Linked DNA regions of Homo sapiens: region 1 is linked to region 2. The links come from fine-mapping of genetic effects on gene expression. A gene starts in region 2. The other region holds a variant in brackets. All regions are shown on one strand. Distances are from middle to middle.

Region 1 (5,378 bases), 74 kb after region 2:
AGAGCAATGTATGTGTTTCACTAACTTGTCTCTAAATGTGACTCTTCTGAATCAGGAGAACCCCCTCTAGACAGTTACAATACAAGGATGTAAAACATTAATAATAATTATGCATTCAGCAGTGGAGTCCACAACAGCACACATAAATTGGCTCAAAGGGCTCTGGCACAAGGCCACTGTAGCTTTCCTTCTCCACTGCAAATCTTGCCCAAATTCCATTGGTTAAGTTGGGAATTCTCTCTTTCCACAGGACCAGAGAGGACAGTGACTTGGGACCTGTATCTAATAGGTATCTAATAGATCCATAAAATTGGAAGTCTCTCCTTTCCCCTCAAATCTCCAGCACACTTGGACAGATGAGTATGACCTTTGAGGCCTGATGTGGACCAGGGAGACCTTAGCTTCACCTCTAATTGTTTTTCTCATTAAAGTGGTTAAGCTGAAGTAGAGGAGGAGGAAAGCAATGAGTCATGAAGGAGAGAGTGGCTCTGCCCATTAAAAAAAGCTTTGCATTTACTTTTGTAGAGCATGGCTCATTACTCCAGCCCAATGAACTTGCATTGCCTTTGGCATTCACAGGGTTCCACATTGGATGGCAATGTCCTTGTGGCTGATATCATTTATTTCAAAAGGCAGAAGAACCTTCTGCCCACCCACAACAAATCTTGGTACTAGTAGTTACAATGGGGTGGACCTGAGGCTGCTCTCAGATTGGCAAGGAAGCCCTCCATCTGGAGGGTAGTTAGCAACAACCAAGGTAGTTGGGGAGTTGTCTTTGAATTTACTTCCTGGTGTTCAGCCTGCAACCAGCTTCCCGATTTCTCCTCATAAACAGGCAATGAAGTGGAAGACCATTGATTGTCCTGTTGACCACAAAATGGAGTCAACATGCCTCTGCCAACTCCCATGGGCTCCATTAGGTCCCATTATCTCACTTACAAGACCCTTGCTTTCCTGTTCCAGCAGCCACGTCTCCGTCAGCCTCCCATCCTCATCTCCAGAATTGTCAAGAACTGTGACGGGTCTGAGATTTTAGCGTACTCACAAGTTAACAAGTTAGCCTGGTACAGTTTCATAGATGCTAAGGGACCATTTATTACAGCACTAGAAGTAGCCTTAGTATCAGCATTTTTTCACAGGTTCCCTGGTCCCCAATTCCTACAGGGTGACACAAAGAGGTCCAGATGACATCTTGGGTTGTGTTCTAGGAGAGGAACCCTGAGCTTAGGGAACCTACATTTTAGGTGGACAACAAGCATACCCGCCCTTTGCTCTAAACAGAGACATTCTATCTCCTAAGGCGGTTCACTAAGCAAACCTCCGTGAAGAGAGAGTCCAGATCAAAGGGTGGTCAATGTCTGCCTCACAAGATGTGCAGACACACTGGAGACCCACAGAGAATTGCCTCCCAAAAATGCTTATTTTCATTTTATTCTTTCAGGTGTTCACAGTTATTTTGAAATATATCTCTGTGGCCTAAAATATTAAAGACAATGCAACAAAATTTGTACTATCAAAATCATTGGGAGAGAATATTAAATCTTCACCTGCAGAATGACTCTAAGATGGGTAATGATGATGTACCTAAGAAATAGCTGAGCAATATCTTTTATGGGCTTTTAAAAAAGGAAACCTTTTATTTTGAGGTAACTGTTCATTCACATGTAATTGTTAGAAATAAAACAGGAGATCCCATATACCCTTTAACCAGTTTTCCCCAATGGTAACATCTTGCAAAACTATAGTACAATGTCACAACCAAGATATTGACATGGATAAAGCCAAGATATAGAACATTCCATCACCACCAGGATCCTGGATGTTGCCTTTTCATAGCAGCAATATCTTAACCCATCTTCCTGGTTGTAAGGTAAATCAGTGCCTTAGCTAATTAGACTGCCACAGATCAAAGAGATAGGATTGTTTACACCAATACCAGAAAAACATTTTACAAATTATTTTTGTAAATATATGTAGAATATATTTCACATATTTTTGTAAATATAAGTAAAATATATTTCACATATTATTTTTGTAAATATAAGTAATATGTGTTTTATATATTAGAACATACAGTAACAAAGTAGATTAAAAAAAAACCTCCACCACTATTTACCAATTTGGTGTATTTTCTTTCAATCTTTTTTTATTTGCTGAGAGAGAGAGAAATGGGAGGGGTGAGAACTAGTATTTATTACCTACATATTTATGTATCTATCAGATATATTTTTGTTACATTCTGGAAATCAATAACATCAGTGAAAAGGAGAGAGAATTCTTACCCCCTGTTCCTTTAACCTTTACCGAAGAAAGGCAATGGGTGGGGCAGCACGTTTTATGGGCAGTTTGTCAGATCTCCAAGACTCTAAGGAATTACAGTGACCCCACACAGCAGGCACAGGGACTGTCCAGCCACAGGTGGATGGCCAGGGATATCCGCAGGGGCTGAAAGAGAAGCACTCCCACCAGCTTCTGGGTTTGGTCAGCAACTGGTGAGAGACTGGACAGCTGAAGAATGTGCCCCCAGTGGAACATTTTCAATAACCATTAGGCTTCCAATAAAAAGAAGTTAGAAGCAACAGTGTGAAAGATGTGACTGTTTCCTCAGAGGTCAAAGCATGAGTCACTGTGAATTAGGCAGTCAAGGGATGGCCCTTTTTTGTGCACTCACCCCCCTGTCATCAACCAGAGTCA[T/C]TGTTCTTCTGAATAACCCCCCCGTTTCAATGCCAGGGGGTTCACATCTGGTGGTGACAGGAGAGTTTTGCCAACAGGATTCCAAATGTCAGCAGGCTGACTGGTCAATGCTTACTCAGGCAAGCCTTCCCAGTGAAGCCATAATTACCTCCCGCTCTCAGAATAGGATTAACAAATGCAGTTATTTGTGTATGATCCTTTTACATACAACCTCATGCATTTTACTCATGCCAGTTAATATTTCCCATTAGAAAAATCCTCTTATATGAATGCCATGATAAATAAATTATTGGCATTTTAAAAAAACCTTGTTAACCAGAAATGGCCGCAAGGGTGAAAGTGTTTATACCTTCATACAATAATGCATTTCTCTTTTTATTTTAAGACTGTTTCCTTTCATTCAGTTTATGAGTAAGGCTGGGAATCAATTAAGTTTTAAGTGCAAAGACAAGGGATATGATTCCTAAAAATAAAAGAAGATAATTTAGGTGTACTTTAGAGGTAATTATAGCAGGATTTTGTTCAAAAGTTTCCCAATATAACTATGTGACTTGTGAAAACCTATCTCAACACTAGTTTCATCACCTATAAACTGGAGGTAATTCACGCCAACCTCACAGAGATGTTTTGATTCAGTAATGAGTCTTGTCTTTTGTGGCAGTTCTAGAAGCTCCAAGGACAGGTGCTGCCAACTGTCCCAATTTAGCCTGTGGCAGTCCTGCAAGTGAAAATCTCAAGTTCACCCACTGGTCCTGGTCCTTATCAGGAAAAGGGGGCTAAACTGATGTTTCAAACTAAATATGATTAACCAGCTGGCGATTATGAGCAAGGCAAACACTCTCCAAGCCTCCCTTAATCTATAAAATGAATGTGGAGAGGGAAGTAGTAGCTAGATGATATCAGAGACACCTGACAGCATATTAGACTCATTTAGGGATATTTAAACCGCTAGTGTCCTGACCACACCTGACACCAATTAAATTGAAATCTGTGGGGTTTAATCAGCATCAGTGGTTTTTAAACTCCCCAGGTGATTACACTAAACAGCCAAGATTGAGAACCATACGACTGGATATGTAAGTCACCGTTCCACTCCAAAATTCAATGATTCTAAATAAAATATTTGAAGCATTCTAAAAAATAAGACATTATTAATGTTATTGTGGTCACTGGGCCATACATTTCCAATGCAGACACCACAGTATTTGACTTTAAAAGAGAAAGTTGAAATAAAGTTTAAAAAAAGGCTGAATGCAGTGGCTCATACCTGTAATCCTAGCACTTTGGGAGGCCGAGACGGGCGTATCACTTGAGCTCAGGAGTGTGAGACCAGCCCGGGCAACATGGGGGAAACCGTCTCTACCAAAAATACAAAAAAGGTAGCCAGGCACAGTGGCAAGTACCTGTGGTCCCAGCTACTCGGGAGGCTGAGGCGAGTGGATTGCTTGGGCCCGGTAGGCGGAGGATACAGCAAGCCGCTGCACTCGAGCCTGAACGAGAGTAAGCCTGTCTCAAACAAAAAAAAAAAAAAAAAGACCACAGTATTCTCCATAGAGTGAAGTTGTCAGACATGGAGATAGCGGGACTGTGACAGGATAAGATTCTTTATAGAGGGATTATGCCTCGTAGTCCTCAAACCTGCTTCAACTGTTATAATCTCTGACCAAGATTACAATAGGGCAAGATCTGTGAGTAATGATGGTTGCTGATGCAAGCAATGTGGCTTTGGGAAACTAATTTCATTGTATTAATCTTATTAATCTCATCAGTATAGGAGGCGTCAGACCACATTGTGTTATCTCAGTGGTGCACTCCAGCTTTAACCTGTAGAGAAAAGAATAAACCTCAGTAAACCTCGTGTCTTGTTTGCTGGCTCCAGTTCTCCTTCGGCCTCTTGAACGCGGTGCCATCCCTATCCAACTCGATAGAGGTCTGGCAGGACAATCATCTACAAGAATAATGAGTTCATAAATCCCAATAAAACATAACATTCTATCAAGAGCAAAATGCAGTTCAGAATTATGTTTCTGTTGATAAACTATAACTATATTTGAGTTATCACTAAAATTTTAACCAGGAAATGAAAAGTTTTAAAGTGTGTTTTTATGTATGTACATTTTAATAGAACACAAAGATTCTATATGGATCAAAATTTCTCCAGCTTGATTGATAGTTTTTCTGTAGAATATATAAAATGAATAACACTTCTTTTCTTTTTAATTGAATGAATATAAGTTTATATATTTTAATTAAGTTGAAACTTCTTTCTCCTTTTTCTGCTTTATTTTACATAGAGTGTGCTATTCATAGTGAAACTTAAATAGATTGTAGACTATTGGTCAAGGTTGTACCCAAACTAGAGGGGTGTATTAGTTCGTTCTTGTACTGCTATAAAGAAATACCTGAGACTGGGTAATTGTTCCATAAGCTGTATAGGAAGCATGGCGACATCTGCTTCTGAGGAGCCCTTGGGGAGGTTTTACTCATGGCAGAAGGCAAACCCAGAGCAGGTGTCTTATGTAGCAGGAGCAGGACCAAGAGAGAGAAGGGGGAGGTGCTACACACTTTTAAACACCCAGATCTCACAAGAACTCACTATCATGAGAACAGCATCAAGGGGATAGTGCTAAACCATTCATGAGAACTCTCCCCCATGATCCCACCACCTCCCACCAGGGCCCACC
Region 2 (5,378 bases):
AATCTATCTGTTCCAGTATGTATGGTTTCCTAAGCAATGAGTTGACTTCGAAAACACCAAGCTAAAGAATAAAGAAAAAATGTGGACATTACCACCTTTATTCACCAAACTACCTCTGTAGGCTACTTACCCTCACTGGGGGGCTCCAGGATTGCACCCGAGGCTGCTGTCCGCCCTGGGAGCTCTGCAGATCTTTTGAGCTACAATTAGCCACAGTGCTGCTCTGAGACCTTAATGCATTTGTGCAGTTGGTCCCACTTCCCCCACCAGGACCAGGTTTCCAAGGCCTCTGTTTGATGCCATCCAGAAGTCTGACCAGCAAGATGTTACTGGGAAGCTCCTCGACACCCGAGCCAACAAGAGTCCTGCACTCGGGACATCTGAGTTCATTTCGAGAACCTACGATCCCCAGCAAACATCGCTTGCAAAACGTATGCTGGCAAGGCAAGACCTTCGCAGAAGCATCAAGGCGCTCTAGACACACCGGACACTCCAAAAGATCCAACAAGGCTGATTCATCCATCTTTATCTACTTTACTGAGAAAAAATCTTCAGAAATGTTCATAGTTGTGTGCATCCCTTAAAATGACTCATGTAACATCCATTTCAGACTTTGCTCTAGAGTCATGGGGAAAAGGGGGAAAAGAGAACATGAGTGTTGTTATCTAGGGAAAAAGTTCAAAGGAGCCAAGAATCAAAAAGTACCCAAAAGTACACTATTCCCTGTCTGAATAGTGTAGCTTTGCTTTGGAATGTGGGTTCCTAAACTCCAAAGTCAACAACTGAAAACAAAACAGGCTTTCTAAACAACGCAAAATTAACCCCTAAAGATATCTAGGGATTCACTGGGCAAACACAAGGCACAGAGTATTACATAATTCCCGCAGAAGGATTTATGAAGTGCAATAAGGAACATAATTTCTTAAGCTCTGAAAGTGGTATCAGCTGCCTTAATAAAGTCTTCAACTCATAGGAGAAGCTGACAGAGGCCATTGAAAGTTTCCTCTACCTGAAATTTACTTTTATATCCAACTAAATTCCCTTTTTTAAGCCACTTTAGCGTTTAAGAAACCATGCCTCATGTAATCGCTCGTGGTAAATGATCCCAATATTAAATACATATGTTTCTTCGCTGTTATTAAAAATAGAACTGTTTAATTTTGCCCAACCAAAAAGAGCTGAAGGTTGACAATTCTAAAAGACACAGATTTGCTTGAAAGCAGCTAAAACAGAAAAGCGCCCTTCAGGGCAGTAGTTGATAAACTCTGAAACACATTTCTGAACGGCCTGTCCTAATCCCATTCAGAAAAGCTGGCAAAATTATCACCAAAAGAATTCGACAATGGAAGGTTGGACTGGAAACTGTGGGCATATGAAAATGAGGCCATTCAGGAAAAAGCAAGCCACTTACTGCGCCGCTCTCCCCCCACCGCCAAAATAAATGTAAAAGTGAATGCCCAGGAGAACGGGAGTAAAAAGATTTGGCTGGGAGCATTAACAGCTGTTCTTGACAAAGCCGGAGCGGGGGAGCCCCAGGGCTGCACCCCCGCTCCCACGGCGCCAAGCACAGGTACTCCCAAGCCCGCAGGGAGGCGCGGCGGCCGCTCGCCGCAGACACACCCCGGGGCCAGGTGTCGGCGGCACCCGGCAGGAGCCGGTCGCGGCCTGGGGCTGCGGCCCGGCCGGTCCCGGCGTGGGGATCTCACCCTACAGCCTCCCTCATCTCCGCCTCCCTTTAGCTCAGGCCGGGGACACAAATCCCTCTACACGACTGCGGGAAGTTTTCAAGGACTTAAAAATAAATGCGCAGGCTTAAGTTGCGAAACTCAGCCCCACAGAGTGCCACGGGGAAGCAGCTTTCTAGCCCAGCCAAGATAAGGCGACAGTCCCCAGAGAGACCGCGCCATCCGGGAAGCAGGGGGTGCTGGGCTGCGCCCGGGGAGACCGCGGCACGGAGCCCTGGCAGCTTCCTGCCCGGAGAAGGCAGAGGCCGCGGGCTGCTCCGCTTCCGCAGGTCCTGATTCCCGGCCCACGGGGACCCGAGGGCGAGGGGAGAGAGAGACCGACCCAGGGCGGGGATGGGGGAATGTCGAGACCACCGCCTTCTCCGCGGCTAGGGGTCCGCCGACGCTGGGTCCCCGTCGACCCCGCGCCGGCCGCGCGCCCTACCTCGCGCCTCGGCTCCTCCTCTTTGTTCGCGGCCCCGCAGCGGCTGCGGCGGCTGATGCAGATGCGGCCCCACCGCGCTCGCCGCTCGCAGTGTCTCTGACGCCGCGGCGGCACCGGGAGACTCCTCTCTGCTGCCCCCCTCACGCGCGCACACACACCACGCCGCCGCCGCCGCCTCCCACTTTCCCAGCCAAGGAGGGCGGAGGAAGAGGAGGAGGAGGCCGGGACGCAGCCGGCGCCCGGGGCGCAAGGGGGCGGCCCCGCGCCACAGCGCCTTCCCCGGGAGCGGGCGCGGCACCTCTCGGAGCCACCCGCCGCCGCGCCGGCCTCCCGCGCTGAGGTGACCTGCGCCCAGTACCCCGCCGGAGCCCGGGGGCGGGATTGGGGCGGCGGCCTGAGGGGGCGCTGCAAGAGCCTAGAGGATGGGGAGCGGGGCCCCCAGGGGACTACGAGGGGAAGGCTCGGGGACGGACGCCTTCTCCCTGAGGAGAACGCGCCTGAAAAATGGAGCCACCGGACGGGAAGGCGGCGGGAGTGGAGGCTGGGGGAAGCAGGAAGAAGCCCCGGGACAGGGTCCCGCCGCCTCCTCCTCCCCCCGGCGGGGCTGGGAGCCCTGGACGGACCCTTCCTCCCCAGGCTGGGCGAGTCGCGGCGCGGGAGGGGCTGGGTCCGCGGAGGCGGCGGGAGCAGCCCTGGCGGGAACCGATCCCGCTGCGCTTTGCGTCTGGTTGCCCACCCCGGACACTTACTTGGTAGAGTCGGAGCGAAGTGTTGCCCCTTAGGGCCGAGAGCGGCGTGGTGAATCGATGGGGACAGTGCCGCGGCCACCTGTCCGCACCCAGCCATCAGTCACCCCAGGACCCAAACCGGAGCAAGCCTGGAGGACCGCTGACCCCAAAGCCCAAGACTAGGAAAACGGTAGTACGGACTTCCAACCCAGGCTCGGGGGCTCTGTTATCCCTGCCCTAAGTGGGGAGAATTGAGTCTGACCTCAGGTGGGCTGGCACCGCAAAGCACGCTGAGAGGCGCCTCTTTTATCTGAGCCTGGGTGGCTGCCATCATCGCAGTAATCTTTGTTTTGGTTGCCCCAAGCACACACCTGTAAACCGAAGTGGAGTTTTGAAAAACATCTTGTCCATAGGTTTTGAGGTTTTTCAGTCTCGATTTAGTGGAGAAGCAAGTTAAAATTTTGTCACTGATCTAAAGTTGACATTACTATATTTGCATTTACCATCAATTTACAAAAAGTTATCCCAAATACCCCTCCTCAAAGGTGGGCAGAAACTAGGTGGTTATAAGAAGAAAGGGTTACAACAGATGATGCAAGAAATCTCTGCCCAGCCACCAACTAGGTTTATGATTTGACGAGGAGTCTCAGTTTATCCTCTAGTCTCCAGCTAGGGCCACAGCTAAACCATTCAAGACATAAGGATCACATAAGCCTGAAAAAATTATGACAGCTAACAATGATCACTCACTGTAAATCAGGCACTGTGCTGAACATTTTTCATGCATCAGTTCAATTCTCTCAGCAACCCTCTATGTCATCTTTTCTCAGCCTTGTTCTAAATAGATTCATATGCTGAGAGTCATAATGTATGAAAACCAAAAATAATAGCCCACTTCCCCTTCCATTAGAAGTGAGCAAATACATGGGCATTTGAGCTGAGAAAGACGACGGAAGGAATGAATGGAATGGAGAATTTCTAGTCCAGTTTGCAAACTGAAAGTTACTACTTAGTTCTGCATGTGGAACTGGGCAGATAGATGAAGATGAGGCTGACCAGAAGATTACAGTCAATAAACAGATAGGGATTATTTGCAGTTATTAAAACTGAAGCTCAAATAGGTTAACTTTCCCCTGGTCACACAGTAAGTAATGTTGAACCAAGACTCAGTCCCAGCTCTCTGGATTCCAAGTCCAGTTCTCTTTGCACCATTCCAAGGCCCTGTCTTTTGCACAGGACCGTCATATCCCCACCCTAGGCAAAGCAAAGCAGTGTGTCTCTTCCCAAGGGAAAGAAGAAACTGTTAATCATGTAATTACTCGAAAGCAAGGGACAGTTTTTATTGTGTTCTTATTTTGGTTTCCTATGTATTTTTAGAGAGCAGCACACAAGGTCATAGATAGAATGGTGCAGCTCTTGAAACTCCTGGCAAAAGAAAATCAATAGTCACACCCATTTTCTTTTCTTTTCTTTTTTTTTTTTTTTTTGAGACGGAGTTTCACTCTTATTGCCCAGGCTGGCACCCACCACACCCAGCTAATTTTGTATTTTTAGTAGAGACGGGGTTTCTCTATGTTGGTCAGGCTGGTCTCGAACTCCTGTGACCTCAGGTGATCTGCCCGCCTCAGCTTCCCAAAGTGCTGGGATTACAGGCGTGAGCCACGGCGCCTGGCCACACCCGTTTTCAAAGAACTGAAGACAGTGTGTCCCAAGACTGCAGTGGTCGAAGAATCTGGCATACATCTCATGAATATTATCTGGGATGTGGCTGCAGTTCTTTGAATGCCCCTGGTGCATGTTCTATAGTTTTTAGAACACAACACTTTTATTAGCTTTAGTTACTCCAGCTGTAAAGTGAAGTTTTAGGCAAGTTACTTTAACCTCCTGAGCCATTTTCTGTCAAATGGTTGAAAAAAAAAATATCTTTCTCAGAGTGTTGTGGGATGACTAGATGAGACAACATGCTGGTTCTTTGTAATCTGTATATCTCTATTAAAGTCAGATAGCATCATTATCATAATCTGCCAAGAATCACCCAGGCAGTTATTCTGGGCAAAGTCCTTTCTTCCCAGGGTCTTAAAAAAGTTTGGGATAGGCCAGGCACGGTCACTCACACCTGTAATCCCAGCACTTTGGGAGGCCGAGGCAGGTGGATCACCTGAGGTCAGGAGTTCAAGACCAGCCTGGCCAACATGGTGAAAACCTGTCTCTAGTAAGAATACAAAAAAAAAAAAAAAAAAAAAAAAATTAGCCAAGCATGGTGGCAGTCACCTGGAATCACAACTACTTGGGAGGCTGAGGCAGGAGAATTGCTTGAACCTGGGAAGTGGAGGTTGCAGTGAGCCGAGATTGCGCCACTGCACTCCAGTCTGGGTGACAAAGCAAGACTCTGTCTCAAATAAATAAATAAGTTTGGTATAATTCTAGTAATTGCAAAGTCCTGTCAATAATATAGGGAAAGGGGCAGTTGGGGAAGAGAAG

Direction of the effects. Positions count from the first base shown, and alleles are read on the strand shown. Sizes are in standard deviations (SD) of each study's normalised expression.
For the expression in spinal cord of the gene that starts at base 2,267 in region 2, T is the high allele of the variant in region 1 and C is the other (large effect, 0.88 SD a copy in GTEx).

Evidence for each region.
Region 1: its variant is fine-mapped to the expression of SH3RF1 in spinal cord (GTEx, PIP above 0.99). The same link has a PIP of 0.9 or more in putamen.

What each region holds. Positions count from the first base shown.
Region 1 is chr4:169,342,896-169,348,273 of GRCh38, forward strand. No RefSeq gene overlaps it. Among named protein-coding and RNA genes, the nearest start is that of SH3RF1, 75 kb to the left of the region's middle. The variant T/C (reference allele first, on the strand shown) is at 2,695.
Region 2 is chr4:169,268,690-169,274,067 of GRCh38, forward strand. SH3RF1 (SH3 domain containing ring finger 1) reads right to left here and starts at 2,267. Exons shown (of 12, transcript NM_020870.4): 1 at 2,170-2,267; 2 at 131-618. The coding sequence starts at 523. RefSeq lists silencers at 1,488-1,707, 1,948-2,707, 2,748-2,897.